4 linked regions of the Homo sapiens genome follow. The protein of the gene in region 2 purifies or fractionates together with the protein of the main gene of each other region. This does not show direct contact. Each region holds a gene or a part of one and is shown on either strand. Other genes may lie near its edges.

What was found.
Region 1: the proteins of RAB9B (region 2) and PHACTR4 purify together in Homo sapiens (affinity purification with mass spectrometry; 3 studies listed by BioGRID and IntAct, with this or other methods). This does not show direct contact.
Region 3: the proteins of RAB9B (region 2) and RABGGTA purify together in Homo sapiens (affinity purification with mass spectrometry; 3 studies listed by BioGRID and IntAct, with this or other methods). This does not show direct contact.
Region 4: the proteins of RAB9B (region 2) and CHM purify together in Homo sapiens (affinity purification with mass spectrometry; 3 studies listed by BioGRID and IntAct, with this or other methods). This does not show direct contact.

Annotation. Positions count from the first base shown.
Region 1 is NC_000001.11:28,470,036-28,478,913, reverse strand, and holds part of PHACTR4 (phosphatase and actin regulator 4), read right to left. Parts: intron 5,361-8,878; coding exon 4,763-5,360; intron 2,808-4,762; coding exon 2,623-2,807; intron 1-2,622. UniProt on the Homo sapiens protein: Regulator of protein phosphatase 1 (PP1) required for neural tube and optic fissure closure, and enteric neural crest cell (ENCCs) migration during development.
Region 2 is NC_000023.11:103,828,188-103,837,255, forward strand, and holds the start of RAB9B (ras-related protein Rab-9B), read right to left. Parts: upstream 4,071-9,068; 5' UTR 3,873-4,070; intron 1-3,872. UniProt on the Homo sapiens protein: The small GTPases Rab are key regulators of intracellular membrane trafficking, from the formation of transport vesicles to their fusion with membranes.
Region 3 is NC_000014.9:24,263,459-24,268,896, forward strand, and holds the end of RABGGTA (geranylgeranyl transferase type-2 subunit alpha), read right to left. Parts: intron 5,369-5,438; coding exon 5,267-5,368; intron 5,162-5,266; coding exon 5,056-5,161; intron 4,963-5,055; coding exon 4,911-4,962; intron 4,741-4,910; coding exon 4,652-4,740; intron 4,501-4,651; coding exon 4,412-4,500; intron 4,319-4,411; coding exon 4,202-4,318; intron 3,432-4,201; coding exon 3,318-3,431; intron 3,060-3,317; coding exon 2,972-3,059; intron 2,306-2,971; coding exon 2,157-2,305; 3' UTR 2,080-2,156; downstream 1-2,079. UniProt on the Homo sapiens protein: Catalyzes the transfer of a geranylgeranyl moiety from geranylgeranyl diphosphate to both cysteines of Rab proteins with the C-terminal sequence -XXCC, -XCXC and -CCXX, such as RAB1A, RAB3A, RAB5A and RAB7A.
Region 4 is NC_000023.11:86,043,972-86,052,871, forward strand, and holds the start of CHM (rab proteins geranylgeranyltransferase component A 1), read right to left. Parts: upstream 3,588-8,900; 5' UTR 3,562-3,587; coding exon 3,513-3,561; intron 3,358-3,512; exon of another isoform or gene 3,140-3,357; intron 1-3,139. UniProt on the Homo sapiens protein: Substrate-binding subunit of the Rab geranylgeranyltransferase (GGTase) complex.

The sequences.
Region 1 (8,878 bases), on a different chromosome or scaffold from region 2:
GAGGTGGCTCATGCTTGTAATGCAGCACATTGGGAGGCCAAGGCAGGAGGATTGCTTGAGGCTGGGAGTTTCAGATCAGTCTGAGCAACACAGCAAGACTGTGTCTCTACTTAAAAAACAAAACAAAACAAACAAAACACCCTTAAAAATAGAACTACCGGGCCAGTCACGGTGGCTCATGCCTGTAATCCCAGCACTTTGGGAGGCCAAGGCAGGTGGATCATGAGGTCAAGAGATCAAGACCATCCCAGCCAATATGGTGAAACCCTGTCTCCACTAAAAAAACAAAAACAAAAACAAAAACAAAAACTAAAATGAGCTGGGCATGGTGATACACACCTGTAATCCCAGCTACTTGGGAGGCTGAGGCAGGAGAATCGCTTGAACCTGGGAGGCGGAGGTTACAGTGAGCTGAGATCGTGCCTCTGCACTCCTGCCTGGTGACAGAGTGAGCCTCCGTCTATTAAAAAAAAAATAGAACTACCATACGATCCAGCAATCCCACTGTTGGGTACATATCCAAAAGAAAGGAAATCAGCAAATCAATCAGTCATGCTTATTGCAGTACTATTTATAATCCCCAAGATATGGAATCAGACTAAATGTCCATCAATAAATGAAGGGATAAAGAAAACGTGGTGTATATACACAATTGAAGATTATTCTGCCATGAAAAAGAAAGAAATCCTGTTATGTGCAACAAAATGGATGGAACTGGAGGACAATTACGTTAAGTGAAATAAGCCAGGCACAGAAAGATAAATGTTGTATGTTCTCACTCTTACGTGGGAGCTAAAAAAGTTGATCTCATGGAGGTAATAAATAAAATGGTGGTTACCAGAGGCAGGGAAGGGTAGAGGGGATGGGGGAGAGAGAGACTGGTTAATGGGTATAAAAACAGAATTAGATAGAAGAAATAAGATCTAGGCCGGGCGTGGTGGCTCATGCCTGTAATCGCAGCACTTTGGGAGCTGAGGTGGGCAGATCACTTTGAGCTCACAAGTTCGAGACCAGCCTGGGCAACATGGTGAAACGCTGTCTCTATAAAAAAATACAAAAATGAGCTGGGCGTGGTGGCTCACACCTGTGTTCTCAGCTACTTGGGAGGCTGAGGTTGGAGCATTGCTTGAGCCAGGAAGTGGAGGTTCCATTGAGCTGAGATTGTGCCACTGCACTCTAGCCTGCAGAGTGAGACACTGTCTCAAAAAAAAAGGAATAAGATCTAGTGTTCGGTGGCACAATAGGGTGACTATAGTTAACAATAATTCATTGTATATTTCAAGATAACCAGAAAGGTAGATTTGGAATAATCCCAATACAAACAAATGATAAGTGCTTGAGATGGATAGCCTAATTACCCATACACACATGCTTATATCAAAATATCTCATGTACCCCATAAATATATATTACTATTATATATCTATAAAAATTAAAAATAGGCTAGGCACGGTGGCTCATGCCTGTAATCCTAGAGCTTTGGGAGGTCAAGGCAGGGGGATCACATGAGGTCAGGAGTTCAATAACAGCCTGGGCAGCTGGGCACAGTGGCTCACACCTATAATCTCAGCACTGTGGGAGGTGGGCGGATCACGAGGTCGAGTTCGAGACCAGCCTGGCCAACACAGTGAAGCGCCGCCTCTACTAAAAATAAAAAAAAATTAGCTGGGCCTAGTGGCAGACGCCTGTAATCCCAGCTACTTGGGAGGCTGAGGCAGGAGAATTGCTTGAACCCGGGAGGTGGAGGTTGCAGTGAGTTGAGATCGTGCCCCTGCACTCCAGTCTGGATGACAGAGCAAGACTCTGTCTAAAAAAAAAAAAAAAATTATATATATATCTTTTATGGCCAGGCACGGTGGCTGACACCTATAATCCCAGCACTTTGGGAGGCCGAGGCAGGCAGATCACCTGAGGTCGGGAGTTTGAGACCAGTCTGACCAACATGGTGAAGCCCCATCTCTACTAAAAATACAAAATTAGCCAGGTGTGGTGGCACATGCCTGTAATCCCAGCTACTTGGGAGGCTGAGACAGGAGAATTGCTTGAACCTGGGAGGTGGAGGTTAAACTGAGCCGAGATCGCACCATTGCACTCCAGCCTGGGCAACAAGAGCAAAACTCCGTCTCAAAAAAAAAAAAAAAGAACAGGCTAGGCAACCTAACGAGACCCTGTCTCTACAAAAACAAAAAACAAAACAAAAAATCAAAGAAACCTAACCAGTTGTGGCACACATCTGTCCTAGCTATTTGGGAGGTTGAGGCGTAAGGATCACTTAAGTCCAGGAGTTGGAGGCTACAGTGAGCGACGATTGCACCACTGTACTCCAGCTGGGTGACAGATCAAAACCTTGTCCAAAAAAAAAAAAAAAAATTAAAACAAAAAAAAACAAAAAACCTAAAACCTGAGTGACTCAATCTACTTGGATCCCTGTCTTGGCTTGTTTTAACAGAGGGGTGATAATAGGGACAAGGAGTCCTTCACAGTGGCTTCCAACATCAGTTAGCCAGATGACTTAATGGGAGAAGGTACCTGTTTCCATATCTCTTTTGACACTTGCTAAGATCAGCAAATAGTTTTATCTGGAAAAGAATTCTCTGTTTTGCTTTTCCCTCCCTTTCTTACTCTGATAGCTTTCATCTTCATCTTCTTCATCTCGGTACTGAATGGGACCTTCTGAATCAGAGTCGCTCTCCTTCTCTTCTTCCTCCCGTAGACACTGTGGTAATTTAGGAATGACTGAGGTAGGTGTCATTTCTTCACTGAATGTGGATGGACAGGTTTGCTCCTCTTCTTCTTCATCGTCTGGACTAACAAATTAACATAATTATATTTTCCTTTTAGAAATGAAGAGGATAACTGACTTTTAAGACAAAGGACTGAAATAAAGACTGGGCGTGGTGGCTCATGGCTGTAATCCCAGCACTTTGGGAGATGGAGGTGGGCAAATTCACCTGAGGTCAGGAGTTTGAGACCAGCCTGGCCAACATGGTGAAACCCTGTGTCTACTAAAAATACAAAAATTAGCCTGGCATGGTGGCAGGTGCCTGTAATCCCAGCTACTTGAGAGGCTGAGGCAGGAGAATCTCTTGAACCCAGGAGGCAGAGGTTGAAGTGAACCGAGATTGTGCCACTACATTCCAGCCTGGGTGACAAGAGTGAGATTCTATCTCAAAAAAAAAAAAAAGACAAAGGACTGAAATAACCATAAATACAAAAAAATCTATGGATGAAGTAACTTATAATTAATTCTCTCCCTTAACTTTAACAATCTTACTAAGAAACTTTTTAGCAGGTATTAATCTAAGGGTTCAGATCCCAGCTTTACCACTTATTAGGCACTGGTGCTTTCCAGAATTTGTCTAATGTCATTCTCACAAGCCTACAGAGTAAATATTATTCCCATTTAGAGATGATATAACTAAAGAGCAGAAGGCTTCAGTAACTTAACACTACTATAAGCTAAGAGTGGTAGTGCTGCAATTTGAACCCAGGGCTATCTCACTCCAAGGTGAATGCTCTTAAGCACAACATTATACAATGCCTTCCCTGTAGTATATAAAACTAGCGGTTGTAATTTTTCATGTACATAATTTTGTAAATTTTGTGTCATCACAAAAATCTCCATGAAAAAAAAAAAATCACAAGAGTAAAAAATCAAAATTTGGCCAGGCGCAGTGGCTCACACCCATGATCCCAGCATTCTGGGAGGTTGAGGCAGGCAGACTGCTTGAGCCCAGGAGTTCAGGGTGAGCCTGGGCAACATGGCAAAATCCCATCTCTAACAAAAAATATAAAAATTAGCTGGGTGTGATGGCATGCGCCTGTAGTCACAGTTACTCGGGAGGCTGAGGAGGGAGAATTGCTTGAGCCCAGGAGATGGAGGTTGCAGTGAGCCAAGACTGCACCACTGACTCCAGCTTGAGTGAGAGAGTGAGAACCTGTCTCAAACATAAATAAATAAATAAATAAATAAAAATAAAGTTTTAAGGTAAGATTAAAAAAAGAAAGAGTCCAAATTCTATAACTTATTCTTTTGGCAGAGTATTCTTTGTACTTTAAATTTATTCACAATGCTGGGCGCGGTGGCTCACACTTGCAATCCCAGCACTTTGTGAGACCGATGCAGGTGGATCACCTGAGGTCAGGAGTTCGAGACCAGCCTGGCCAACATGTTGAAACCCCATCTCCACTAAAAATACAAAAATCAGCCGAATGTGGTGGCACATGCCTGTAGTCTCAGCTACTCGGGAGGCTGAGGCAGGAGAATCGCTTGAACCTGGGCGGCAGAGGTTACAGTGAGCGGAGATCGTGCCACTGCACTCCAGCCCGGGTGACAGAGCAGGACTCCATCTCGGAAAAAAAAAAATTATTCACATTTTCTTTTTTTCTGTGAGACAGAGACTCGCTTTGTCGCCCAGGCTGGAGTACAGTGGCACAGTCTTGGCTCACTGCAACCTCCACCTCCCTGTTAAAGCGATTCTCCTGCCTCAGCCTCCCGAGTAGCTGGGATTACAGGTATGTGCCACCACGCCTGGCCAATTTTTGTTATTTTCATCGAGACAGGGTTTTACTGTATTGGCCAGGCTGGTCTTGAACTCCTGACCTCAGGTGATCGGTCCATTTGCCTCAGCTTCCCAAAGTGCTGGGCTTACAGGTGTGGGCCACTAGGCCCGGCCCACATTTTCTTTTTATAAGTAATTTTTTCCAAGCAGGGCTATCTAGAGTAAAGGAGAAATAAGAGGCAAGCTTTAAAGGCACTTACACTTTTAGCATTTCAATAGTGATGGGAAGAGACCTGGTCCGACCCAGCGTACTGCTGTCCTCAGAAAAGCTGTCACTGTTTTCAAAAAGCAACGAATGAGCTCTGTGAGAACCCTCCAGAATAGGAGTCATGGGAAGTGGGCTGGTGAGGGCCTGCTGGATTCGAATATGCAGTGGGAGTGGAGGCAGCCTAGAGGGTATATGGGGCTCCCCAAAGTTCTGGTCCAGTATCCTCTTGGGGACTTCCTTTTTCTGATCTTCCTGCTGGGGAATCTCCTGGTGTAGATCTAAGGATGGTGGAAACTCAATTTCTGGCACAACTTGAAAAGTCTTAGCAGGGAATGGAGGGGTGCGTGGAGGCTCTGGAGGTATATGAGTAGGCAGTGGGGGGGACGGAGAGCGAGGTGAGATCATTGGTAGTAGTTCCGAGCCCATAGAACACGTGCTCTTCTCTCTTTCATCACTTGGTGTTTTTGTGGTGATGGCAGCAGCAGACTCCAAGGTGGGTACTGAGGTTGATGGAATGCCTCTCTTAGGTGGTAAGGGTGGGGACGGTTTTGATAACAATGTACCACTGTTTATTGCTTGGGACAGTTCAGCTGGAAAAGAGAGAGCAACACATCAATTTCACGACTTTCCAATGCTTTGAAGGGCCGGCCCAGGGCCTAGAATTAAAGTTGAGTTCAGTTTTAATCTTTTAAGCAAGTTAAATAATTTCATAGTTTTGCCATTCCCTATATATTTTATCCTGAAATGAAGTTTATATTTATTCAAATAGAAGGCTTAATAAATGTACAGAGGTGTAGGAAGACTGATGAGTAGCTTACTTCATTGCTATGGCAACAGATATGACAATTTTTTTTTTTTTTTTTTTTTTGAGACAGGGTCTCACTCTCTCGCCCAGACTGGAGTGCAGTGGCGCGATCTTGGCTTACCGCAACCTCTGCCTCCCGGGCTCAAGCGATACTCCTGCCTCAGTCTACCAAGTAGCTGAGATTACAGGCGCACGCCACTACGGCCCGGCTAATTTTTGTATTTTTAGTAGAGGCGGGCTTTCACCATGTTGGCCAGGCTGGTCTCGAACTCCTGACCTCAAATGATCCACCTGCCTTGGCCTCTCAAAGTGTTGGGATTACAGGCGTGAGCCATGGCACCCGGCTGACAACTTTTTGTAACTTGATCTTGGTGTAGTTAATATGAATAGAGACAAAAAAAATCTGATAAAAAGTTATCTTGTGGCTGGCACGGTGGCTCACACCTGTAATCCCAATACTTTGGGAGGCCGAGGTGGGCAGATTACTTAGGTCAGGAGTTCGAGACCAGCCTGGCCAACATGGTGAAACCCCGTCTCTACTAAAAAAAAAAAAAAAAAATTACAAAAATTAGCTAGGTGTGGTGGTGGGCACCTATAATCCCAGCTACTCAGGAGAGGCTGAGGCACGAGAATCTCTTGAACCTGGGAGGCGGAGGCTGCAGTGAGTCAAGGTCATGCCACTGCACTCCAGGCTGGACAGCACAAGACTCTGACTCAAAAAAAAAAAAGTTATTTTGTATAACAGTACTCCATTAAAAAATTTAAACATTCAGATAGCATAAAATAAGTATTAGTGGGTATTGTTACCATATCCTGATAATGGTATCTAGATATCTTAGCTCTGTGTTATAAAACTGTCAATACTGACATCTTGAATTTTTATAGCAATTGCAAAGTCCTTTGAAGAAATCAAAGTGTTTTTTGTCCTTGAAGTCATATTCTCCTTATACCACCTGAGGTGACAGGGGAAAAAATATAGCATCTTTACCATTTTTCAGAAGGAAAAGGCAAGGCCACAGAAGCTAGGTGACTTTGCCCAAGATCATACTACAAACTGGCATGGACTCAGCTGGTATCCAAGTCTCTGACTATTTGACTGCATCCTACTGTCTCTAATTTTTTTTTTTTTTTGAGACGGAGTCTTGTCGCCCAGGCTGGAGTGCAGTGGTGCCATCTCGGCTCACTGCAAGCTCTGCCTCCCGGGTTCACACCATTCGCCTGCCTCAGCCTCCCAAGTAGCTGGGACTACAGGCGCCCACCACCACTCCCGGCTAATTTTTTGTGTATTTTTAGTAAAGACGGGGTTTCATCATGTTAGCCAGGATGGTCTCAATCTCCTGACCTCGTGATCCGCCCGCCTCGGCCTCCCAAAGTGCTGGGATTACAGTCGTGAGCCACCGCGCCCGGCCTACTGTCTCTAATTTTTATTGGTATGCACACCTCTTATGTTCCCTTTGCACCTCAGCTTCCCATGTTCACTCTCCACTATATCATGGGCTCCTTGATGGCAGGGCAACCTTGTCTCCATCAACATATCATCCACAGGGCTGTGCACAGTACCTGGCATCTAGTGGACCCTCAATATATGTTTATTAGATGAGAAGCCTTCACCCTGTATCATGACAGTATATATTCCTATAGTTTCACCAAAGCCCACAATGACTCAGCAAAGGTGTTGGTGTTGTTTCAGCAAAGTCCCTTTGGAGGGCTCCAGATGACCTGTAAGAAGTGGATCATCAGATCACACAGGAGTAAAACTGGTAAAGTAATTAAAGGGTAGTTATTTTTTCCCTGCTGACAGGAAAAAAAAAAAAAAAGTAGTTCTTTTGATCACCAACCTCTAACCTTCTACTCAAACCCTTTAGTTTCATCCCACTCAGTATTCTCAAACACTCTCAAAAACTTCCCTTAAATAAAACTGTATTTGTCCTAAATCTCCAAAATTGGAGATGTTCAAAGTAAAAGGCTAGCTAATTATTTTTTTCTTTTTTGAGATGGAGTTTCACTCGTTGCCCAGGCTGGAGTGCAATGGCGCCATCTCGGCTAACTGCAACCTCCACCTCCTGGGTTCAAGTGATTCTCCTACCTCAGCCTCCTGAGTAGCTGGGATTACAGGCATGTGCCACCACGCCCGGCTAATTTTTTGTATTTTTAGTAGAGATGGGGTTTCTCCATGTTGGTCAGGCTGGTCTTGAACTCCCGACCTCAGGTGATCCACCCGCCTCGGCCTCCCAAAGTGCTGGGATTACAGGCATGTCCGCTTTGCCCGGCCAAGGCTAGCTAATTTTATAATTCTTTTTTTTTTTTTCTTTTGAGACAAGGTCTCCCTCTGTTGCCCAGACTGGAGTGCAGTGGCATGAACAATAGCTCACTGCAGCCTCGATCTCCTGGGTTCAAGTGATCCTCTTGCTACAGCCTCCCAAGTAGCTAGGACTACAGGCCCATGCCCCCATGCCTGACTAATTTTTTTAATTTTTAGTAGAGACAAGGTCTCACTATGCTGCCCAGGCTGGTCTTGAGGTCCTGGGCTCCAGTGATACACCTATCTCAGCCTCCCAAAGTGCTGGGATTATGGATGTGAGCCACCACACCCAGCCTCTTTTCTTTTTAAATTTATTTTTATTTTTAAATTAAATTAATTTATTTTAGACAGGGTCTCACACTGTGTCACTGGAGTGCAGTGGCGCAGTCACGGCTCACTGCAATTTTGACCTCCCTGGGCTCAGGTGATCCTCCCACCTCAGCCTCCCAAGTAGCTGGGACCATAGGCATGTGCCACCATGCCCGGCTAATTTTTGGGGGGGGTATTTTTTGTAGAGATGGGTTTCTCCATGTTGCCTAGGCTGGTCTCAAACTCCTGGGCTCAGGTAATCTACCTGCCTCAGCCTCCCAAAGTGTTGGTACTACAGGTGTGAGCCACTGTACCTAGCCTTTTCTTTTTTTTTAGAGACAGGATGTTGCTCTGTTACCCAGGCTAGAGTGCAGTGGTGCAATCATAACTCACTGCAGCCTTGAACTCCTGTGCTTACCCAATCCTCTTACCTCAATCTCCCAAGTAGCTAGAATTACAGGCACATGTCACCATGCCCAGCTAATTTTTAAATATTTTATAGAGATGGGGTCTTGCTACGTTGCTCAGGCTGGTCTTGAACTCCTGGCCTCAAGTGATCTTCCCACCTCGGCCTCCCCAAATGCTGGGATTATAGGCATTGAGCCACTGTGCCTGGCCTAATTTTGTAATGTTTTAATGTCTCTCATCATAAATAATTTTTTTTTTTTTGAGACAGAGTCTCGCTCTGTTGC
Region 2 (9,068 bases):
TATTTTCTAAATATAGATAAAACTTATAATAAGGATTCATTAGATATCTAAATCAGTAATTATGAATTTAAATAATATCTCCTAAATGGATAGGCTTTATCCTCCTTCTTGGTTTATATACACTCTACAGAATTCTCAAGTTTCCTACAATTCCTAATTTTTGTCCTCTTTTTCCTGCTCCCAAATTGCTGTCTTTGGAATTAGCTCAAGTAACAAACATTTCTTTAAATGGAGATGAAACAAGTGTTAGCACACTTTTTTATTTTTTTATACTGGTCTGTAGGATAATTTTACAGAGCAAAACTCTTGAACTCTCATTTTGAAAAGCAACAGAAGTACAAACTTGGGCATGATTCTGATGGCTAGTATTAAGCGTCCAGGCCACACAAGCTTCCTTGAGTTCCTAGCAAACAGGCGTTCACATCATTAAAAGACTCACTGACCCTATTCTCCCAGTTGCAGATAAACTCAATAGACAGGTCAAGGACTGAGTGAATATGGAAACCAAATGCTCAGCTCCAGGAATAATGATGATGTATTAATAACTGTCTGAGATAATGCTGCAGTTGCTTGTGCATTCCCTATTTGGTTATGTGCACACATAACTTCTGGGCCTATAGGCTCTATGCCAAGGGAAAAAGAGGAAAAGCAATGTGGTTCAGTGTCAAGAGCACTGAGCTAGCTGGCAGTAATCAGGACACCAGGGTCTTCATCACTGTTACACCATTCATTTATTTTATGAACTTGGGCAGGTCATTTAATCTTTCTGTTTCAGTATCTTCTTACATAAAAATAGAGCAGATAATACCTGCCCTACTTAACAGGATTTTGGGGGAGAATGAAAAGCTTATGAAGTTTGCAAAGATTTGTAAGCATTTTTTGAAAAATTTGGTTTGAGATTTTTATTCCTCTGGCTCCTCCACCTCCTTTCATGCACTGGTGGGGGCCTTGTGGCTCAGTATTAACCCTTCTCAGAAAGGGCCTGCTAGTGAAAGTATAAGAATTCTTCCTTTTCTCTTTCTTCCATATTTGAGAATGCCTTGTTCCTCAACAAGCTTGAACATCTGCATATGGCACAGAATCTCAGCATTGAAGGGACCTTCAGGGTCTTCTGGTCCAATCTTGCTACTGATATTTGAGAAAACACTACAGTGCCTATTGTGTGTTGTGTCCTTACTAAGGAAACCCTCCACTCTCCTCTGCTGTCTCCAACTCCCATTTATTTTCTAGAAGTAAAAATGAATACAGTTTAGATTTGTCTCCTTGCCTTCATTCAATCCTGCTGATTTTCCCTTGAAGTATCATTTTCTAGTCCTGTGCTACCATCCTCATTTTGGCCCACAATTTCTCACATCTAATCTATTGTGAAAGTTCTTCTCTCCCTGCTTCTGGTGTCTCCCCACTCAATCTACTTTGCAAAGCTTCATCACTCAAACATCCATTGGATGTAGATACTGTTGGGAATTAATAAATGTTTAAGGCAAGGTCTTGCCCTCAGGGAGTTTACAAATTAACATGCAAGCTCAGGATCTCATTGTTTACAGTTGAAATAATGTCATTATACTGACTTATTTTGTTAACAAACTTTTCCTGTCTTTCTTACATGATCAATTTTAAATTCCTAGATAGTAAGCTCACTGTATACATCTTTGAAGCCCCTTCAGTGTGCAGCACCAGGATCCTCCATGGAGATAATAAATATTTGTTTACCAATTAAATGATTAGGTAGGTGCCCAGAATTAATGCCTCTGAATTGATGCCAAGGTACAATAGATCCATAGTTCTGTAAGATGCCAAAATACTATTATTTATAAGGTAACTAAAGAGCAGAAGTTATGAACTTGACTCGATCATTTTCTGGATGGGGAGTAATGGGAATTCCACCTGTTGAAAGTCAAGGGAAATGCTCCAGTTTTCCTCCCCCTACTCTCACATTTTAAAAATAAGTATATACATTTCCCCATTCCTACCCAAAACAAGAGCAGAATAATGATATCCAGTTGATGTTGTCGGTGGGTGCTGGCCTCTCCACAATCATTTATCATTGTTTGAAAATGAATGTCATGTCCTTTAGTACATACTTAAATTAAAAAGAACTAGCACAGTGTAAAAGCAAATGAAATCATTTTTTCCTCCCCCAGAATATGCCGGATTTAATCCAAACCTTTAAACAAGGTAACATTAAGCAGGCAAATGAATTCTTTGATAACACTAAATACGTAAATAGGAAAGTCAAATGACGTATGCATCCCTTATGGGTCCTCTGTCGGGCGAGCATTTGGACCAAAACGCTTATTCTGATTTTGATCCCATTCAGAGAAAGATCTGACTCTAACTGAGTAAAATATTCGAGAGACGCAATTCCCCTTTCCTACCCCCACAAACTCATTAATGAGCATGCTCTAAGGATAGTTTACTAACTTTTTTTTTTCCCATCAGGGTCTCAGTCTTGGAGAGTAAGGTGAATTAGGAATTTCCATAACCAATACTCCCCAGCTCTTTGTTCTTTAACACACTTGAAACCTTCTGAATCTGCAGTACCCACAAAGCCTTATTCAAATTATTGTATTTAGTTGGGAATGCTTAGAGGTGGGAGTGGAGGTGGGGGAGGAGGCAGTACAATGAAGAAAAAGAAGTTGAACCTTTGAAAATAGTACATTTTAGTATGATGATGGAGAGAAGAGAGGCAGAAAAGCAAATTCGCATCAGTTCAGTTGCCATGGAGTGGAATGATGCTCAAAATCAGTAGTGCAGATTGCTCGGAGGCAAGTCTTGAAAGGGATGTGTACTGCAGGGATCGATAGGGGAAGAGCAACTGGGGAGGGCTAGGCACTGGATGAGAGTGGCACTGTTGGAAGTCTGTACAGGGGAGGAGCCATGGTTGGACCTGTGGGGAAAGCCCATCTTGTGGCGACACACTGGTAAGGGCTACTCAACTCACTGTTGAATGCTGGCACAATAATTGGAAATATTGCACTGAAGAATTGGGCGCGGCTATATTTATGTAAAATTCAACACGGATGAGAAATGATTGAATGTTTGAGTGTGTTTCCAATACAACCCAATACTTGGCGTTGGTGCTGGTGGTGGGTGCTTCGTAGCGCGGAAACCCTCTGACGCACTGGATTCATTTTGCAGAGCTAACAAGTTATCAGCTACATCCATGCCGACTCCAAATGCCACAGCTGTCATGCCACTGAAACGCTATTCCTACATTCATGCCCACATTTATATCCTATATGCAACTCAAAGGGTCCAATGTGGAGTCCCACATCTAACCTTTCACTGCTCACAACGACAGCTCTAGGGCTATAAGCCCAAAGGCACACTAGATAGCAATCTGGCATCGTCCCCAGGACACTTCTTCCTCAGTAGACTGCCCAGGGACAGATAGGTAGATAAGGTTTGGATGACATCAAGCGAGCTGAACACAAGGAAAAAAAGCTTCCTTGGGAGACAAGAATGCTGGCATCTCTACGACAGGGGCACTGTTAGCATTACGGACCTAGAAAGTGAGATGTCACACATAGTCCCAACTACCTCCGACCCAGGTCCTCTCACCTCACCCCCAGCTCTTAGAGCTAGTCGGCTGTGGCGCATGCGCACTGAGCCACACCCGCTCCCCACGGAGCCCTGCGCCTCTCTGCTCGGCTCTGGCAGCAGCTCGGGATTACTCAGCAACGCCCCCCTGCACTGTCACCTGCCCCCGACTCCGACCTCGGGAGCGGCTCAGTCCCTTTTCTCAAGCTACGAGTGGTCCTGGGGATCAACTAGACTTTCCTTTCTCCCTCTTCTCACAGGCCCCCCACCTCCCGGCCTTCCGGGTCCTCCAGCCCCTAGCCCCTGTTCCTGCCCACGCACAGGCACCTTACCCAACACAATGGGAAGGAAACAGGAGAGGGCCGCGGGTGCCAGGCAGGTCAGCTCTGCGTGCCGGGAATCCGGCTCCTTAGAGTCACCGTCACTGCTCCTGCTGCCTCCTCGTCCTCAATGGGGCAGCAAGTGCGGCTTGGACCTCGGTGGCCTGACAGCTGCCGCTCGCGCCCGCCGCTGCCGCCGCGCAGCGTCTCGAGCCCGCGCCCGCGCCCGCCAGGGGAGGGGGCGGGGCCCGCGCCGCCTCCTCGTGCCCCTTTCTCGGCGGTGGGGACCCGGTGTAGCCGCCTCCCGCCCTCCATGTGGCAAGCGCTCCCTGGCTCGCCCACTCTTCTTTCATGCTCATCGTCCAACCCTGGTCTCCCTTGTCCTCCTTCTCCTCCCCTAGCCGATTAGTAGGCACAGCGGCAATAGACCGTCAAATATTGCTCTTCCACTTAGCTCCTCTGCAGCCTGGGCCTAAGCCCTCAAGCAGGGCTAGCCACTGCCCCACTTCCTGCAATTATCCTCTGATCTACCTCATTTATCCTAGCTCAAAATCCTTTAATTTTGCCAAGAGGGTAGTACATACACCCTCTTGTTTCAAATAACTCAGGAAAACACATGATCACAACACATTGCTAGGCCCTCTAACTGGCTACAGCTTATGAAATTTTCAGGCAATTAAAAAAAATGTCCACATCTGTAGCGCAGGCATAGAGGACACACTGCCCTTTACTCTTACCAGATACAGTTCTAGAGGGCCACACAGGGGGCATTACTTGAATTTCCCGGAATTGCTGCTGGGGCAGAATTTGATGTTTTAATTGTGCCTAGCCGACCAGCTAGTCTCTTTTTGTTGTTTTCTGTAGCCCTCTGGTACTTCCAACTAGTTTGTGATTTTCCCCCTGGAATTGAAGAAGGACAAAGCTCCTGAGGTCATTTAGCCTGCACTCCACCTCTCTGTCAGGCAGCTCCATCTCTGAAGCTTCCCCATTGCCCGAAACCCTGTGACCTTGTGGCACAGGCCCTCACTCATCTCATGACCCCGTCCAGGCCCTCACACATACCCGCTACTTCCATCTAGGCCACTCTTCCTCTGTCTCTTGACAAGGCAATCGTGCAATCAATCTCCGCAGGCCCCAGCTTAAATGTCACTTCTCAGGATAACCTTTCTCGATAATCTCAGAATAGAGATGGTGCCCCAGTTTATACTCTTGTAGCCTCCTGTAACTTGCTGTATTTTTCCTTCATAACACTTACCCATTTTTGGTGGTACATTTAAGTGTATGATTATTTGGTTGACAGCTGTCTTCCCTACTAAACTATAGTGGGGAAGGACTATGAGGTCAAGGACAACGTTTGTGTTCACCACCGTATGCACAGAGCCTAGGGCAATGCTTGCTGCATAGGACATGCTCAGAAAATATTTGCTGAATATGAATGAATGCTGTATCACTAATAGTTGTTATATTTAAATAAAATAAATTGATGTAACTGAATCTCATGTGCTCCTATTTAAACCAACCCCGTTCCCCACACATACACTCTAAAACACTCTTCTGATGAAGACGAGATTCACACAATCCTCTAAATCAAATTTTCCGCATACATTTTAGTCTATTAAAAAACTATTGAGCATGGGCCCCAACATATGTATAAGGATTTATAGATTATATACATGTACTACTGTACATGTATACATTACACATTACTTTAAACATACATTTTAATGAGTAAACATTAAAATACTCCACAGAAATTTTAAAAGAATGAGAAAAATAAATATATTGATGTTCCAATGTTTTCTTTTTGCACCTCAATAAATAGTTTTGTGAAATGCTTTAAATAACAGTCCTTCATATTAGAGTAACTCGTCTTTAGGTGTAACAATCTAGACTACTTTTTCATTTTCTCATAGATGCCATTTTCCAACAGTTTAAAAATCTCTGAGAAACCCCCAAACCAACTGGCAAGTTTTAAGGATCTTTTAGTTTCTAAGCTACCTCGTTCTGTAGTCAGGATCTCACAACTGCTGAAAGCACCACACGTTTAGTGAATGTTGGAACACCTAAAGGTAAGAAAAATCCTTTGTTAGACCAAAGATTCCTACATGTAAATCCTATATTAAAAGAGTCTCTAGAGGCCACTTAAAAAGCAGCTACTATTATCTTTCTAGAATGGAAGCAACATGACTAACACTAGTTGTGAGGGATCAGCAAAAATGGACAGCACGAAGATTCAAAGTAACAGCTGTGGATGGTTTTGTGGCTCTCAGATGGGACTATTCCCAATGGTCAATCATTGAGATCTGTCAAATAGTGTCCTTCACACACAATAAAAATTCTATTTTTATAACACAGTTACACACACACACACACACACACAATAGAATCATAGTGTAGTCGGTAGATAGAAGGCCAAACCAAGATTGCGTTTGGATACCAGAGATAGGGTTACCTTCAGAGTCACACACACACACACACACACACACACACATACGCTCTTCAACATTCAATGAACAAGATCTCCCAAAGTCTCATCCTGATCAGTTTGAAATACATTGACCTGAGCTTCAGGAAGACATAATTGTAATGTGATTAATTTAAAAGAACAGCCTGGTCCAGCAGTCACAAGTTGTTATGTACAAGAGGGTTCCGTGAAGCATTCAAATAAGTGTATAAACACTGCATACTATTTCCCTTCCAGAAGAGTCACGTTGCATATTAAAACATTAACGTCTCTTGGAGTCCTGAAGTAAAGAAATCTGTTGTGTTGTTTTTCAATCTTACATTTCCAAAACTTTTGTGAACATGAATTTCTTTTGTTTATGGAACATCTATTAGCAGGACTAGAACAGCTCAGGACCCAATTTAGCAACTACTGTCCTAATCATTAATATTGAACATATTCATAGGCCAACGTATTTGTCATCTTTGTCCTAGAATATTTATGTGGCAACTATACACGTTATATTTTCCAGATAGTCCTGATTTCAAATACTTTGTCCTATTGTCCTAATTTTTACAACAATACTCATGAGATCATCTAATGTTTTATTCAGAAATTATGGCAGTCATAGATATGTAAATAGGAAATTAGTAAGAATTTGTGAACTATTTACCTATCATTGTCCAAGAGCAAGTCACAGTTTCTGGTGATACAATATTTTTTTAAAAAATCATTTGACACAGGGATAATATTATGGAATAGGAATACTTTGCCAGATTTTTCATAGCCTGAAGGAAAGATCTCTTAAGATTATCCAATTATGGAAGGCATCAGTATGAACTCAGTTTAGTCATTTAAAAAAAATTTTTAAGCTCTGTCCACTAAAAATACTTAGAAACAATGAAAATCTCAGTGTCCAAATTCACCTATAGTGCCCATAGGATGGTTCTAAATGCTATTTCCCAATAAAAGGACCCAGGATTACTTAAATAAATGGCTGACTTCAGATATGTGGCAAGAAATATCCAAGATGAACATAAAATATCTTGTCACACCAGATAGCAAGGAAGCTAAAAACATTATTAGAGTTGAGTCAAAAGGACTTGAAGAGGCTGTCATCAGTCAAACACGGGGCAATTTGAGCATCAGTAAAGATAATAACTACAATGAATTGAAATATATCAAATATGTTTAAATATACAAATTCATAAAAACACTTAAAAACATAATTGCTCAATTTGGCCAAACCTAGAAAGCTAGCTCATTATTTTAAAACTGGTAAATAAAGAGAGTGACTCAAACATTTAACCTGCTTTTTTTAAATACAAATTATTCCTTGGTGTAACAAAGGAGTTGGCGAGGAAAGTGTTTTAAAAAGATTCCCAGCTAATAAATTATGAAGGAATGATAAAATTACAACCTTTAATGAATTAGTGGATCTAGGTAATAATAGTTAATGTCTTCTAACATTACAAAAGGAGTGTTAACCATATATCATATGCCTCTTGATGGAAAAACACAGCAGCACATAGAAAGTATTTTTTGTCAAAAAATGCAATTTGAACCCTATCAAGCTCCTAGATATAACTATGAATTTTTAGAAAAATACAAGGAAAAATATGTTAACATTGTAGGGATGTAAGCAACAACATCCAGACTTAGGTTTAGAGTGCAGGTGTGTGTGTGTGTGGTTTAGAGTGCAGGTGTGTGTGTGTGTGTCTGTGTGTTGAGGGGGGAGAAACTGCAGAAAAAAACGTGGTTTCTTCAACAAATAAATTTTAAGAAAGAATACAAAAATGAAAGTTAAAAAGAATGCATTTACAATGACATCAAAGAGAATGAAATATTTAGAAGTAAATTTTAAAAAAGAAGTGCAAAAAAAAGAAGTGCAAAAGTAACACTCTTAAAAACACAAAACTTTGTTGAAAGAAATTAAAAAAGATCTAAATAAACGGAAAGATATCATATGTTTGTGGATTGAAAGACAATATTTATAAGGTGGAAATACTCTTCAAATTGATCTACAGATTCAACGCAATTCCTGTCAGAACCCCAGCTGGCTTCTTTGTAGAAATTTACAAGCTGATCCTAATATTCTTATGGAAACTCAAGGAACCCAGAATAGCCAACACAATCCCGCAAGAGAACTCAGCCTTTTCAATTTCAAAACTTACTACAAAACTACAGTTACCAAAATAGTGTGGTACTGGCATAAGGCTAACATGTAGATCAGTAAAATATAATTGAGAATCCAGAAATAAACACACGTGTCTATGGTCAATTGATTTTCAACAAAGCTGCCAAGGCCATTTAATGGGGAAAGAATAGATTTTTTCAACAAAGTGTGCTGGAATAACAGGATAGCCACATGCAGAAGAATGAAGTGGGACCCTCACCTCACAGCACATACAAAATTAACTAAAAATGGATTATACTATAAAATTGTTAGAAGAAAGCAGTAGTAAGTCTGGTCTTGAGTTAGGCAATGGATTCTTAGATATGACACCAAAAGCAAGGGCAACAAAAGAAAAAATAAATAAATTGGACTTCATGAAAATGAGAAATGTTTGTGCTTCAAAGAACACTATCAGAAATGTAAAAAGACAACTCACAGAATAAGGGAAAATATTTGCAAATAATATACTTGATAAGGAAGTTATCTAGAACATATTTAAAAAAATCTTACAACTCAAAGATAAAAAGATAACCCAATTTAAAAATGAGCAAAGCATCTGAATAGACTTTTCTTCGCAGATGTACAAATG
Region 3 (5,438 bases), on a different chromosome or scaffold from region 2:
ACAGCCCTGTCTGGCCGACCTTCTGGTCCCAAGCTTAGGCTGCCTACCTCTGCTCTCACAGGCTCCTGCTGCCGAGTTCTGTGCAGCCCAAGCCAGGCTCAGCCCTATGAAATTGGCCCAGGGGCCTGGTCCTGGAACTCATCCTGCCCAGGGAGGTCCTGGGATCCCAGGTTGCAGACTGGTGACATCAGCAGCCAGGCCCTCAGACTGGCTCCACCAGCTAACCCCTGACCTGCTGGCTCTACCAGATATTCTGACTCCCTCCACCCCCAAGTCTGTCCCTTCTTTCTCAGCTGCTCTACAGCCCCAGGCATGAGTGAGCTGCCCTCAAGTTTGGGATTAGGGAGATCAGAGTAGGAGCAATCTCATTTCACGTCCCCCACCCCCGCTGTAGCCTCGGGGGTTAGGGGATGTTTAGGCCTTTCCACTCAGGCTTGGGTGGGAACTGAGTCCCCCTTCCAGGGGTACAGAGTACCTTTCTCTCACTGAGAGGAGTCTCTGCTCAGTTGGACTAGAGGATTCCCTTTTCTCCAACCTGGAATTCTTCCTGGGAATCCAGACCAACCGGCTCAGGCACCTGTGCTGTGTGCATCCTTACTCCACCCCGTCACTGGGGAAACACTGAGGATGGCACCAAGGCGATCCCAAGGTAGAGAGGAGGAGGCTAGGCATCTTCAGGGAGGCTCTCCTTGGGTCTTGTCCTCAGGCCCGTCAGCCAGGGCCTTCTTCCTTCTTTCCTTCCTTCCCACTAGTGTCCCAGCTCTGCCCATGGGCCGCCTAGCAGAAGACAGTAAAAACAGGCCGACAAGAAGACACAAGGAAACAGAATCCAGGAGGGGCTGTTTGGTGATGCATCAGGCAGGGAGGTGCCGTGGGGAGTGGGGACAGAGAGGCCCCAGGAACTGGCAGGGAGCCCTCCACACCCACACTGCCTTTTCTTGTCCAGCTCCAAGCACCAGAACCTGCCCGGGGGTGGGGGCAGGTGCCCCACCTCCAACACCCTCAGTAGACACACCAGTGGATATAAACTTCCAGGCAGGTCAGCCAGAGGGCTTTGTGCAGGGGCTGCGGATTTGTGCATCACTGCAGATACGGGAAGGGGCAGGGCCCTGGCTGTCCGGACGTGTGTGAGCACATGTGGGCCCAGGCAGATCCCAGAGAACCAGTAGGATGCCTTTGTCACACTCTCTCCCTAGCTTTAATCAATCTTTCTCTCCCCACCCAGCCAGGTTTGAGTCAGTGCCCTAACCCCTGAGCCAGTCCCCTCCCCCCACCACCACTCAGGACTCTCTAGGTCAGGACAAGGTGTGTACATGGTATGTGTGGGGGGACACCATGGGAGCAGACACTCAGCTCAGGACCTCAAGGAGCTGAGGCCAGGCCGCTGCCCAACCATTCCTTAGCAATACAGAAGCAAGAACATGAGTCTAGAATCCTAGACCAAGGGTAGAGACAACTTTGGTTTCAGTGCTGAAGCGCTCCGGCCAAGAACCTTGGGCAAGTCTCAACAGCAGTTTCCTCATCAGTACACTGGGCCTAAAAATCTCATCCCTGAGACTCTGTGAGGATCAAATGGTATCAAGTATTCTCAAAGGTACTTCAACCGTAGAATGCTACTCATGGGGACCGATAGTGTTGTTCAGGCAGGACGGAGCAAGGACACCCTGGCCCATTCCTGGGAACGTGGAGCCCTTGAGCCTCCCCAGCTATGGTGAATGGGGGCCAGGGCAGGGGGAACATGTGGAAGGTGCAGGGGTCATGGGAAAAAATTGTATGATGCTTCCAGCTGGAGAAACTCACAGCTGCTCTGTAGCTTACCAGAGCCAGAACCTGAGCCCAAGCCCTATTCCTGCTTGGAATCTAGACCCAGTCCCAGCCCCCACCCCAAACCAGAAGGTAAACAAAAGCTCAGCCTTCACCCTGAATTCTGCCCCAAACACTGAAGCCTTGGCTCTCTCTGAGAGGAAACAATAGGATGGCGCAGAAAGAAGGAGCTGGCAACACCCCATGTCTCTTCCCTTTCTTTTCAAAAAATAAAAGTGATGAAGGTGGTGGTGTAGTGATAGCAGCGACAACAGCTTGGTAGCCTGAGAGGGCCTCTCCATTCTTTATTCAGTCCCAATAAGTTAAAGGGCAAGGGTAGGGGGCAGGGCCTCTTAGGTGAGGACGCTGCTAACTGAAGGCAGCAGTTCAGCCAGTTGCTCCAAGATGCCCACCGCTTGGCACAGCGGGTTACCCTGCAGGTTGAGGAGGACCAGCCTGGGGCAGGAGGCAAGAGGCTGGAGCACTGCAGGCTGCTGGAGGCCTTGTTCAGGAGAGTCAAGGAAAGCTTGGCAGGTTCCTCCCAATTTATTTGCTCCTGTGTACCCTCAAGAGCTGGGGACTGCTGCCTGGAAGTCTGTTTGATGGGCATCTCATATGCTCCCTGGAGGGAGTCAGGCTCTAGGCAGGGACTGCAAATGCCTACCCACAGGGTCAGCCAGGAAAGAATGAGCCGCAACACCCCACGCAAGCTGGTGTAGTATCAGGGGAGTGGTGCAGGGTATGATAAGGTGGAAATCTAGCCTGGTCCAAAGAGACATTTACTATTCAGCAATGACCAAGGGCTGCTGAGTGAAAATACCAGTGTAAGGTTGCTCTAACTTCCAATTTTTAAGAGAGGAATTAGAACTCTAGATGTTTTTTAAAGTATGAAAGTTCCTGATTTTCAAAAAACTACATAGACCTGAAGAACAGCTGCGGGCTGCCCATTTGTGAACTCTGACTTGAGGAAGTCCACTCCGCACAACTCCACCAGTGCAGGTCAGTGATAGCCCGACAGCCCCAGGCTCTCCCCCTTCAACTCACACTACAGAGCCCCCTCTCTCCTGCCCTGCAAGAGGGTGGCACATACCCTGCCTGCTGTCTGTCCCTTCCCAGGGTGGCACCTCACTTTACCCACTGTCTGAAAGGCACCCAGAAGGAAGGATACGGTTGTTGCACAGTAGCAGCTCCTGCAGCCGGGGTAGGTTGGTGACGCCGTCCAGGGACTCTATGGCATTATCACTGGCCTGCAGCACCTGGGGGCAGGGAGGGCAGGGAGGCAGGACAGGCGCTGTCAGCCAGGGATGGTTCAGCAACTGAGGAGCTCAGGGTGACGGGTCCACAGAGCACAGAGGGGCTCACAGGGTCAGGCTGCGTGATGGAGGTGGAAGGCACGCAGTTACCTGTTCGGGGTGGAGGGTCCTGCACATCTCCTTGTAGGATGGGCAGACTTCTGAGGGAGAGGAAGAGGAAAAGAACCACCCGTGACAGGGACGGAGACATGGGTACTTTACCTCAAGGCAGCGCAGGGCAGCCAGTGCAGGTGGCAGGGTTCGGAGGCGATTGTGTGACAAGTCAAGATGGGTGACCAAGAGCAGCTGTTCCAGATGGCAGAGCACTGTCAGATCCTGGGGGGTGAAGGGAGGAAGGAGGTGATGGGCTTCCCAGGAGACCTGGGAGAGGGTCCTCGGCCAGCATTTATTAGGCACATGCCCTCTGTGCCCCACAGGCCCTTGGGGACCCCAGCCAAGAAGAGGATGGGAGCATGTGGGAAGCTGACCTTACAGCCCACAGCAGTACATGACGTGGGACAGACAGTGCTGCGAGTGGGGTAACCAGTGGGGTGGGTGAGGAGGAGGAGGCCTGGAGTTCGGAGGTACAGGGGCCAGTGGAGGGTGCTGGGTAAACAAAGACTGGTCCCCCATGGGGACTGGTCCTGATGAGGCAGAGATGAGTTTGGCAGGAATGGAGGTGGGCTGTGGTGATGTGATAAAACTAATGTGTTGGGAAGGACTAGGAAAGTGGAGCCTGGACAACTTCTCAGGAATCTCTGGAAAGTATTTGGCCTTCAGGTATTGGAGGTTGCTCCAGGGTGAGATGTGCTGGAATGTGTGGGAGGAGTGGGCTAGCGGTCACTCTGAAGGAAGATGAAGCTGTGACCAGCCTGGGGAAGAAACAGCACAAGGAGGTCCTGGTGACTCGGGATTTGAAAGTGAGTGGCAAGAAGAAGAATGGGCTGAGTGACAGAAAGGCCTGGAAGAGGAGCAAGCTGGGAGGCAGGGATGAACTCTATCTTGATTGGAAGTCCACAAAGGCACCTGAGACTGGGGGCAAAGTCAGGGACGTGGGGAGGCCAGCGGGATGAGGGCCAGGGGAAGGCATGCATGGCAGCCCATACCTTGTGAGCCAGGTGCAGCACACGCACCTCGGCATACTCCATCTTGAGCACGCTATTCTCCAGCAAGAACTTGCTGCGCAGGTCATCCAGATACGTTGCCCGCATGGGGTCCACGGCCTGGAGTGGATGAGGTGGGCAGGGTATGCATGTCAGCTGCCTGCCTCCTGCCTGCTGGGCCTCCCCCTGGTCTGTTCTGCAGACAGAACTTGCCTTGAGGGTCTGGAAGTACTGCAGGGTCTCCTTCTCATACAGCAGGGGGTCCAGTGCCCGCATCAGCAGGATGATGGTAAGCAGGCACCCTGAGGAGAGGGCAGGGAAAAGGAGGGTTTCTCTTGGAACCTCCTCTGCTCCCATCCTCCTGAGGCCTTCCTGCTGTCCTCTCAGGGCCACACTGGAAAGGGGTTTCCTCAGCGGGCTCTGGGAGCAGACTCTCACGGAATGGGGCCTCACATTTATTCTCAGGCTCCAGCTCCTGCAGCTCCTTACAGGATTCCAGCTCAGACTGCAGCACTGTGGACTTCTCCACTGACAGCTCACACCTGAGGGTGGGCAGGGTGGGGAGGAGTTGAGGCCCACAGCCCTGAAGCACTGGTCAACATTCCCAGTATCTAGACTGAAACAGCTCCTTGAGGCCCCAGCCTCCTGCCCTGGCTGCCTGATGCCCAGAGTCCAGAGCCCCTCTCCTTGTTTTGTGCTTCCCTATCACCACCTGAATAGCTGCTCGTCTGTCGTGGAGTCCCGGCACCAGCCCTCCTGGCGGCCTGGGGAAAGAGTAGGTGGTTGGAGGGTGCACCCTTGAGAGGAAAAGAGTGATGGGGGCTGCTGCAAGGGGTGGAGGCTGCAGGTTCCATCACCTTTTAAAAGCACGCATTCTTTCTGGACATCGCCTGCTGTCCAAATGACGCGAAATGTATGTTGGGGCAACTGGTCGTTGAGGGAGGCAGCAGGCAGGTCACAGAGCTGGGAGTACTGGGTCAAGGAAATGCCCCAGCCTAACCACTTTTTTGACTGTCCCACCCAGCCCTGCCCCAGACCCCAACTTCTGCCCCACCAATCCTGGGATACCCAGACATGGCTGGGCCGGTTCCTGCCATCTGGGGTCCTCCACTCCACAATCAGGGGAGAATCATCAACCATGAGCAGCAAGATCTCCATCCTGGAGCCCACCTGGCACAAAGGACAAAGACTTCAGCCCCATCAGCACCAGGCCCACAGTCCCACAGTGCTCTTGACAAAA
Region 4 (8,900 bases), about 18 Mb from region 2:
CCATCTTAGGGGAAGAACTCCAAAAGATGTGAGCAGTGTGCTTTTAAAAAGAAAAAATGCAGGCTGAATGTCTACATGGTCTTCAAAAAGAAAGAAGGATGCAATGAAAAGCCTACATTGTCTTAAGAACAGCTTTGGGGATATGACTGTTAGGAAGGCCAGAACGTTCCTGAGAATAGGCAATACAGTAAACTTCACAAGGGAAGGGACTAGGTTCTCAGTAAATGTGGGTTGAATGACCTGAAAAATGAGTATTTGTCACTACACTAAATGTTATCAGGCCTTTGTGATGTTTGATGTAAGTTTGCATTTTAGGTGTTTTTCTCTTCCCTTTCCTATACAAACTGTCATTTGTATGTCTAATAGCAACCCCACCAAACATAGTCTTTGCAGAAGTTGATAACATTCCTTGTATCTTCTAAGGGGGTGGTTCTAATATGCTGAGCTTGCTAGAATTATTTTTAAAATGAGGATGAATATGTTCTAAGTGATGATCTCAGGGATTCCCCTATGTATGAAGCATGTCAATATTATCATATAGATCTTATAACTTCCATCTTGACTGCTCTTCTGTTGAGTTCTTGGCTCTGCTGTGCTGCAGATTACACAGGCTTCCAGATAAGTCACCTCCAGTGAGATGTAATGTTACTGGGACGACTTTTAACGTTCAACCAATGGTACTTGTCTATAATCCACAAAACTGTCATTTAAATGACTTTTTAAATGGCAAAATACCCTGAAAATGACAATTCTGTACCCAAGCTGAAGAGCACCTTCTAGACCCTTACCACATATATCTATTTTTATCCTCTCCCTTGAGACTCCAGTTGGCCCTCCTTCTTTATTCCATTTTCTTCTATTTTTTCCGCAATTCCACTTTAGCTTACTCTTCTGTCTTTGGATGTTCAAGAGATATTTACTGTATTTTCTAATCAGAAGGAAATGGGCTTAACTAAGAAAATACAAAGTTTATTTTTTTCCATAATCTCTCGAAAATATGATCTTAAGGAACAATTTCCATCTTGCATTACAGAAAATGATAATGCAAGTTAATCAAGGTGAAAGGGATTATAAAATATTATCTTCCATGATTATACTTGATGAAGCAATTGTTCCTTTATGACATTTTAACTAGGACTAAATCTGCTAAAAAGTATATCTAATAGCCTATTTCTTCATGTTTCTGATGCATGCATTATTGCTTCTACTTTTATTAATACAACTGAATCTATGAAACACTGCTTTTTCTATGATTTGCTCAATGTAATACATTTAATAAAGCAAACATTTTAAAGGCTACTTTCAGCAAACTATTTCACAAGAGAAATATCCCAAGCACACTAAAAAATAAATCAAATTAAATCATGATTGGAATTGTTGGAATCATTTATTTGGGGAATGACTCTTTTATTCAATTTTTACACTTTTGATGTACCTAAAAGCAAAATTACATATCATAAATTTAAGCAATGTGCTTGATAAAACCTAGAATGTGTCACCAATAAACAATATGAAAAATTTAAGTTTTAAGATTAACTTCAAATAAGTTCTTCCCAAACACTGAAAAATAACATTGCACTCACTGGGATAAGTATAAAATGAGTATTTTTCCAAATATAAGCGATGTCACCTGATGCAATTCTCTGGCTCACTCACTGTAACTTCCTACCTCTACCATAACAGACTCCATCAGGATGGATGTCTTCCAATTCTGAACTGTACAGAAGGCAAAATATTTATGAAAAACATTAGCATCATTCATAAGAATTAACATTCATCAATTAAAATTTGAACCCAGACCTGAAAAAAAAAATTGTTGATTAAAAAAATTGTTAAAAACACCTCAAGTTCCTACACAAAAAAAGCAAGATTATAAAACTCAAGTATGGTATAACAACTATTCCAAAATGGATGCTGTTCTCAGTTTTAGTATAGACTTAAAAGAAAAAATGAATAGTCCATTGGCTCTTTCCAGCTCTCATCCAACATCTGTTCATAGCAGCTACAACCAGGTTATTTGCAGCCATGCAGTTATTTTCAGGCTAAGAATAAACCTGTCCATGCTGTTCTGAGAACTGTTACCCAGGCATTTTTTGTTAGACAACATAAAGACCATCTATTTTACCTTCCTTATATTCAAAAACAAGGAAACTGAGGCTCAGAGAGATTTAGTGCCTGGCCCTCCCAATTCAAGCAATTCATACTAGCACTAAGCAAGACCTAAAACCAAGTTTTCTCAATTGTTTCTACGAATATGGGTCAACTCTGAGGATCAGAACCACTGACTGTTTTCCTGGGATGGAATGGGCCTTTGGAAATTTACCAGCTGTGTGATCCTGAGCAAATTACAACTTTTCCAAGTCCCCTTTTCCTCTTCTACAAAATGCAGAGAGTACCTACTACTCTAACAAGGTTGTGAGGATTATGTTCGGCTTGTAAAGTGCTTAGCACAGTGATTAGGAAATTTTAAGCATTCGAAAACAGGTAGCTATTATTTTTACTCCCAACCTGAAAACATGGCTGCTCCTAATCATGGCTGTATGAGAAGACAACGAACTGAATTCATTAACACAATGGACAGGGTCCCATCCACCAGAGCTTCTCTGGCCTACCACATTCTACAAACAGTAAAAAACCCCATCAAACAACCTATTTCATTCCATCTAAAATGATCATCCCTTACACTATTAAAAAAAATTGAAATTGCTGCCATATGTGTTCTGCTACGTGTTGTACACTGAATATGTCAACTAGAAACTGCAGAGGAGTTTCTGGTTCCACCCAAAACATGAAGAACAAACGACGGGAAAACAAGAGTTAGATAAGGTCACACACCTGAACTGGAACTCAGGACCTTATTCTCAGCACATTTAGTTATTGATGGTAGAAAGCAAGATGCTTTAAGCACCATAAAGCAGGAATAATGGCTACCTCAACAAAATAAAATTCCCTAGGTTTCTCAACAAAATAGAATCCGTTTACTTTCCCTAGTAAATTCATACGCACATGGGCAATAATTGAGCATCTTTCTTGTAAAACTGAGGATTAAGCTGTGTCTGAGCTGCGATGTATGCTAAGATCATACAAATCTATGAAAAAGTCCTATGAAATGGCGAGACAAAATGATGGGGAATATCACCTTGAAATCAATAAGGAAGGAATCATAATGTCTTGCCAAAGTCGTCTCCGTTGATAAAATCCCGACCCTCCATTTCATGACACTGCACATCCACTTCCCTCTAAGGAAATTAACAGGAATCACCGCAGCAACCAACCTCAGCAATCAGCATCGACCAGATCAACCCCTACTCAAATGGCGATAAGCACTGCGGGTCCCAGCCCCTCCCTGTAACTGCCAACTCCCGCGCTGACTCCGGACTACCTCACTTCCTTTCAGTTCTCCCTCCCACTCTCGACCCACGATGTTTGTCCCAAAACTCGCCACTGACAGAAAAAACAGAAACAAGACAGTCTTCCTAAACTTTGTCCAGGAAGCACCAGGCTACACATACCCGTCCCTATTACGATCACATCAAACTCCGAAGGGAGAGTATCCGCCATCTTGACGGGAAACGTGTCATGTGACTATTACTTGTGGAAATGAGATCAAGTTAGGCATTCCCTCCGTGGAAGGCGGAAAAGAAAACAGTGCATTCTGGGTGTTGTAGTTCTTGGGTGGAAGGTCCAGGCAGGCGACTACAGTATTATATTTAAAATGTTTACACGTAAGTTAAAAGCTCGACTCATTTTCCAGGCTGAATGCTGTAGCTCATTTAGCCTGGAGGGTTGAAGTAGGAAAGAAATGTAGATTTTTATTCCGTTAGCTAGGATGAATGTGGGAGACTTGGATACCCCTTGACAATACTGAAGCAAAATTGTTAGGAGACACGGAGAGCGGAGTGAAATTGAAGGCGGTTTGCTCTGTGAACAAAGGAGACTTTCATTCCAGCCTAAAAAACTGTTTCCCGCCATCGTTTCTGTACTTTCGTGTTGGCCCTCGAGGCATGGTTTTTCACACCAATACTTTCAGAATATATTCCATATCTTTTTCGTTTCCATGTCTCCTCGATGAAAACCCACAAAAAACCTCTCACCCTAGTTTCGCCAGAATGGAACTCCCACCGCGTCCGTATTTGTTCCAGTTAGTCCAGACAGCCACTCGGGCAATAAATTAGCCTTGCTTTACAGGAGGGAAAAAATATATGAAAGCATGGTTGCGCTGGATAAGCGTCTGTTGAGTCTGAATTCGATTTTCCGCACCAACTAGATAAGTTCATGTAAGATTCTCCTTAGTTTACATTTAGTTTCCAATCTATTAGTTTCCATAAGCTACCGTAGAAATAATTAAGGTAAAATGGTCTTTATATTAAAGTGATTGTATCTGATGAGGGGCTTTAGGTCGTCTATGTCTAACAGCTAACATAGCTCTCATAAGTATCTTCAAGGTCTGTCGCCTCCCACCGCTTCCCTCCAACCGCCCCCCACCCTGCCCCCGATTATTTAATACTCCGCTGTCTGACAACACCAAAGCAAAAGGGGAAGGATGCTGGGAATGAAGGAGGATACTTTTTTGACGACAGAAATTTCTTGTGTAGTTATTTTACAAGAGTTTCAAAATAAATCAAAGATAATGTGCAGTAGTGGGCCTTCCCTGACACCACCTATCCGCTAAGATGCTTGTGGTTCCCCAGACATTGTTTTCTTTCCAGTCTCTGACCACGCTCATGCTGTTCTTTCAGCATGGAATGATCTTCCCATTCTCTAGCTAACAGTTATTCCCAGGATGTCGCTGGGCTTCCACCTCCTCCTCCTTTCGTCTCCGTGTGTGGGCTGTTTCCCTACATGGTGCTAGACTTTGTCTTAACCCGCCATACTGCATTTATGACGATTCCTATAGAGTACACATATCCCCATATATCCACACAAAAATACACACCCAGACATGCAATACCATAATTATAAACCCCTGTACAGCATGACAGACACCAAGTCTCATTTATCTTTTTCACTCCTGCACCTAACCTAAGCCCGGTGCATAGTAGGAATTTAATAAATGTTTGCTAAACCAAACTTGATTTTGACTCCCCTAATAGATGGATGAGACGAGTCCCTGTCCTCATAGTGCTTACCATCTTTGCCTTTATATCTGCCCACCACTATCATGTGTCTTATATTTAGAAGATGTTCAGTGTCCATTAATTGTAAATATTTACATGAAAATGCTTTAAAATGTATTTTGATACGCTTTTTACTGCATTTCTCTTGCATTTTACCATAATCATTAGCAACATTGTACATGTTTCATTACTTTCTTTTATAGATCATCCAGTTGTATTACACAACTCTCTTAAGATATGGTCTTTGATTAGTATTTTCTGTAAAACAGATTCCCCTGAGAAGTATAATGTACTGTTCAGTAAACCACTTTGTCATTTGCCTTGGTATGTAAAGCAAGTTTTTAGTATTATCAGAAGTGAAACAGATATTATTTGTGAGACTCTTGATAAGACAGTAGAAAATGGAAACAAATGGATTTCTCAGAGTAAACACAGAAAACTTTCCAAAATCTTCTCTAATAATGAGAAGCCACAGATGGATGGTTAAAAACCTGATAAATAAAAGTATTTCTACCATACTTTGGATATATATTTATATACATTTGTTCATGTATACGAGATATATAAACTACATACATATACTTTTCAATATGAGTATCACTGACCTTCTAGGGATTCAGAAATTTTCTGACAATCACACCATGAAGATGCAATTCATTAATTTGTTTATTCCTCAAATATTCATTCAGCACCTACTATGTGCAAGACACTATTTTGGATGCTGAGATTAGAGCAATGAACAAAACAGACAACAACCCCTGTCTTCATGAAGTTTACATTTAGTAGGGTAAAACAAAATAAACAAGTAATTACTCTGTAGCATAGATTTTCCAATCTGTGCTGCCCTTAGTTTGAAACCTTCTTTTTTTCCCCTAAGGATAGAAAGCACAATCCTCAGAAGGATAATATTACCAACTTATATTTTGCTGTTCTTTCTCTAAAGTTATTATGGGACTTATTCATGCCCTTTTCTGGGCATGGAAAAGATTACTACATTAGGAAAATTTCAATCTTGTGCATGGAGAAAATGCTCCAAATACCTTTTATTTCAAATGTATTTTTGTAGACTTTATGCAAAGTAAAGATGAATATAGGAGTTAATAATTGCAGTAAAAAAAGCGTAAAGCAAAACAGCTGAATTGCATCTATTCTGTTATTCTAAGGACATCTTTTTTTTTTTTTTTTTTTTTTTTTGAGACGGAGTCTCTCTCTGTCGCCCAGGCTGGAGTGCAGTGGCGCCATCTCCGCTCACTGCAAGCTCCGCCTCCCGGGTTCACGCCATTCTCCTGCCTCAGCCTCCCGAGTTGCGGGGACTACAGGCGCCCGCCACCACACACGGCTAATTTTTTGTATTTTTAGTAGAGACGGGGTTTCACCATGTTAGCCAAGATGGTCTCCATCTCCTGACCTCGTGATCCGCCCGCCTTGACCTCCCAAAGTGCTGGGATTACAGGCGTGAGCCACCCCACTGGGCCAAAGACTATGTACATTGGAGATAGTCATCTTGCATAATATGTCTCAGAGATTCTCTGAATTTCTTGAATTTGCATGTCGACCTCTCTTGCAAGGTTGGGGAATTTTTCATGTATTATATCCTGAAATATGTTTTTCAACTTGCTTACTGTCACTTCTTTTCTCTCAGGAATGCCAATGAGTTGTAGGTTTGATCATTTTACATAATCCCATATCTCTCCGAGGCTTCATTCATTTTTTGAAACTCCTTTTTCTTTTTCTTTGTCTGTGTAGGTTGATTAGAATAACCAGTCTTCAAGCACCAAAATTCTTTCCTCTGCTTTGTCTAGTCTGTTGTTAAGGCATTCAACTGTATTTTGAAATTCCTATAGTGAATTTTCCAATTTCAGAAGTTCAGTTTGGTTATTTATTAATATGACTGCTTCATCTGTCAAGTCTTGGATCGTTTTTCTGGCTTCCTTGGATTGAATTTCAAGGATGCTTACTGAGCATCCTTGACATCCAGTTTCTGAATTCTTTGTCTCATTTCAGACATTTCAATTGAAAAGAGATTCTTAGAAAATAGTTGTGTTTGTATGAATGTGTATCTCTTAACACTATGAAAAATAAGCAATAATAATTCAGGAAGTAGATTATTACATCTTATTATAAGTTCCAGACTTATAAAGAATTTTTTTCAATTCAGAACTAGTATTAAAGCTAATTTTGAATTAAAAAATGTGTCTCCAAGCCTGTAGTTGTAGTGGTGGTAAAAATTTACCAGTACCAATACTCTGGACAATAAAACAGAGCTAAAAGTAAAGAAAGTCCAGTCTACTGGAGAATATCCTCAAATTACATGAACTAGTGCTGTTGTGAGTATACAACCCCCTTGAGGAGTTTCACAATATATCCAGATGAAGTTAACTTAAAGTTTTCCATTTCAAATGTGTATAAATACTATTCTATCATACCATTTTTGTTTATAAAATTGAGGTCTTTGAGTTCATGTTCAATTCCATCTTTAAAAGATAATCAATGTCATGACAGCAATTATTTCCATATATTAGAAATATTTTTTAAGTGTTAGTTTTAGTAACAAAATGATTATTTGTACTAACTATTGTATTTGTCAGCTTCTTCAATACAGAAATATTCAGAACACATTTACATTTTTCATAGTCCCTGCAAAACAAAACAAAACGAAACAAAACAAAGAGGCTGAATAATTTTGTGGGAATTTCATCAACCTTTATAGAAAGTCTTGCTATTCTTCTTTTAGCTGTTTAATTGTAATGTCATAGTAACAGAAAGCAGCATACCCAATTTTGCATGGATGAATAAACACATTCAATAAGGAAGATTTAACAGAGTAAATCAAACACTGGATTAAACATTTTCTGCATAACAGACCACAAAATGGGCATTCATTTTACCAATGGATCCTTGGCATTAGAAGCAAATAGAAGTGCATACCAACATAATTAAACTGAATATTCAGTGGCCTGATTGCAAAGTTTCCCAATATTTTATCAAACGATCTTCCAGTTAATTAAAATTGCCTATACATATTCAAGCACACACATAGAAAAGATTAAGTATAGATACTACTCATTTAAATTTATAATTCAATAGATTAACTTGTTTTCTTCTATTTTTTATCCCCAAAGTTTGAATATAGTAAATCTTCAGTATGATCGCACAAATGAAAAGTTCAAACACATTGAAATTGGCAATATTGTGTTGTTTTGCATTTAATTGTATTTAATTTTTCATTTTTGATATAAGAATATTATTTAAAGACATATTTTAATCTCCAAGGGTGAGCTATTTCCACTAAATTTGCTGACAAAACTTCACCCCAGAATTTATTACATGGCTATTCATAGTCAAATTTTAAAATAGTTTACTATTTTTGTACAAGTAGTTTCTCCTATTATTTATGTCTTATTATTTCAGTTTGTTTTTACTGTAATGTTTTATTTCAATGCAAAAGCATTTTTACATTTATTTTTATCAAGAAATGGCTGAATAACCCAAGATTCAGGGCTTTCTATTCTCTCTAATCCTCAGAAATAATGTTTTATTAATTCTATATATGACTCAAAGCATTAAGAATAAGAAGAACCACTTCATATTTGGACTAACTTTGTGATAATTTTGAATATAATGAGGTCACTTCAACTGTATTTTTTATTCTACATAGGTATTAAATAGGAGTTTGTAAAGAAATAGATGACATGCCTACTAAAAACAGGGATTGTCTCTGTATTTCTGTAATATCAATGTCTACCATTGCCACAATACCTTCTTACAGCCATGCCAAAAGGA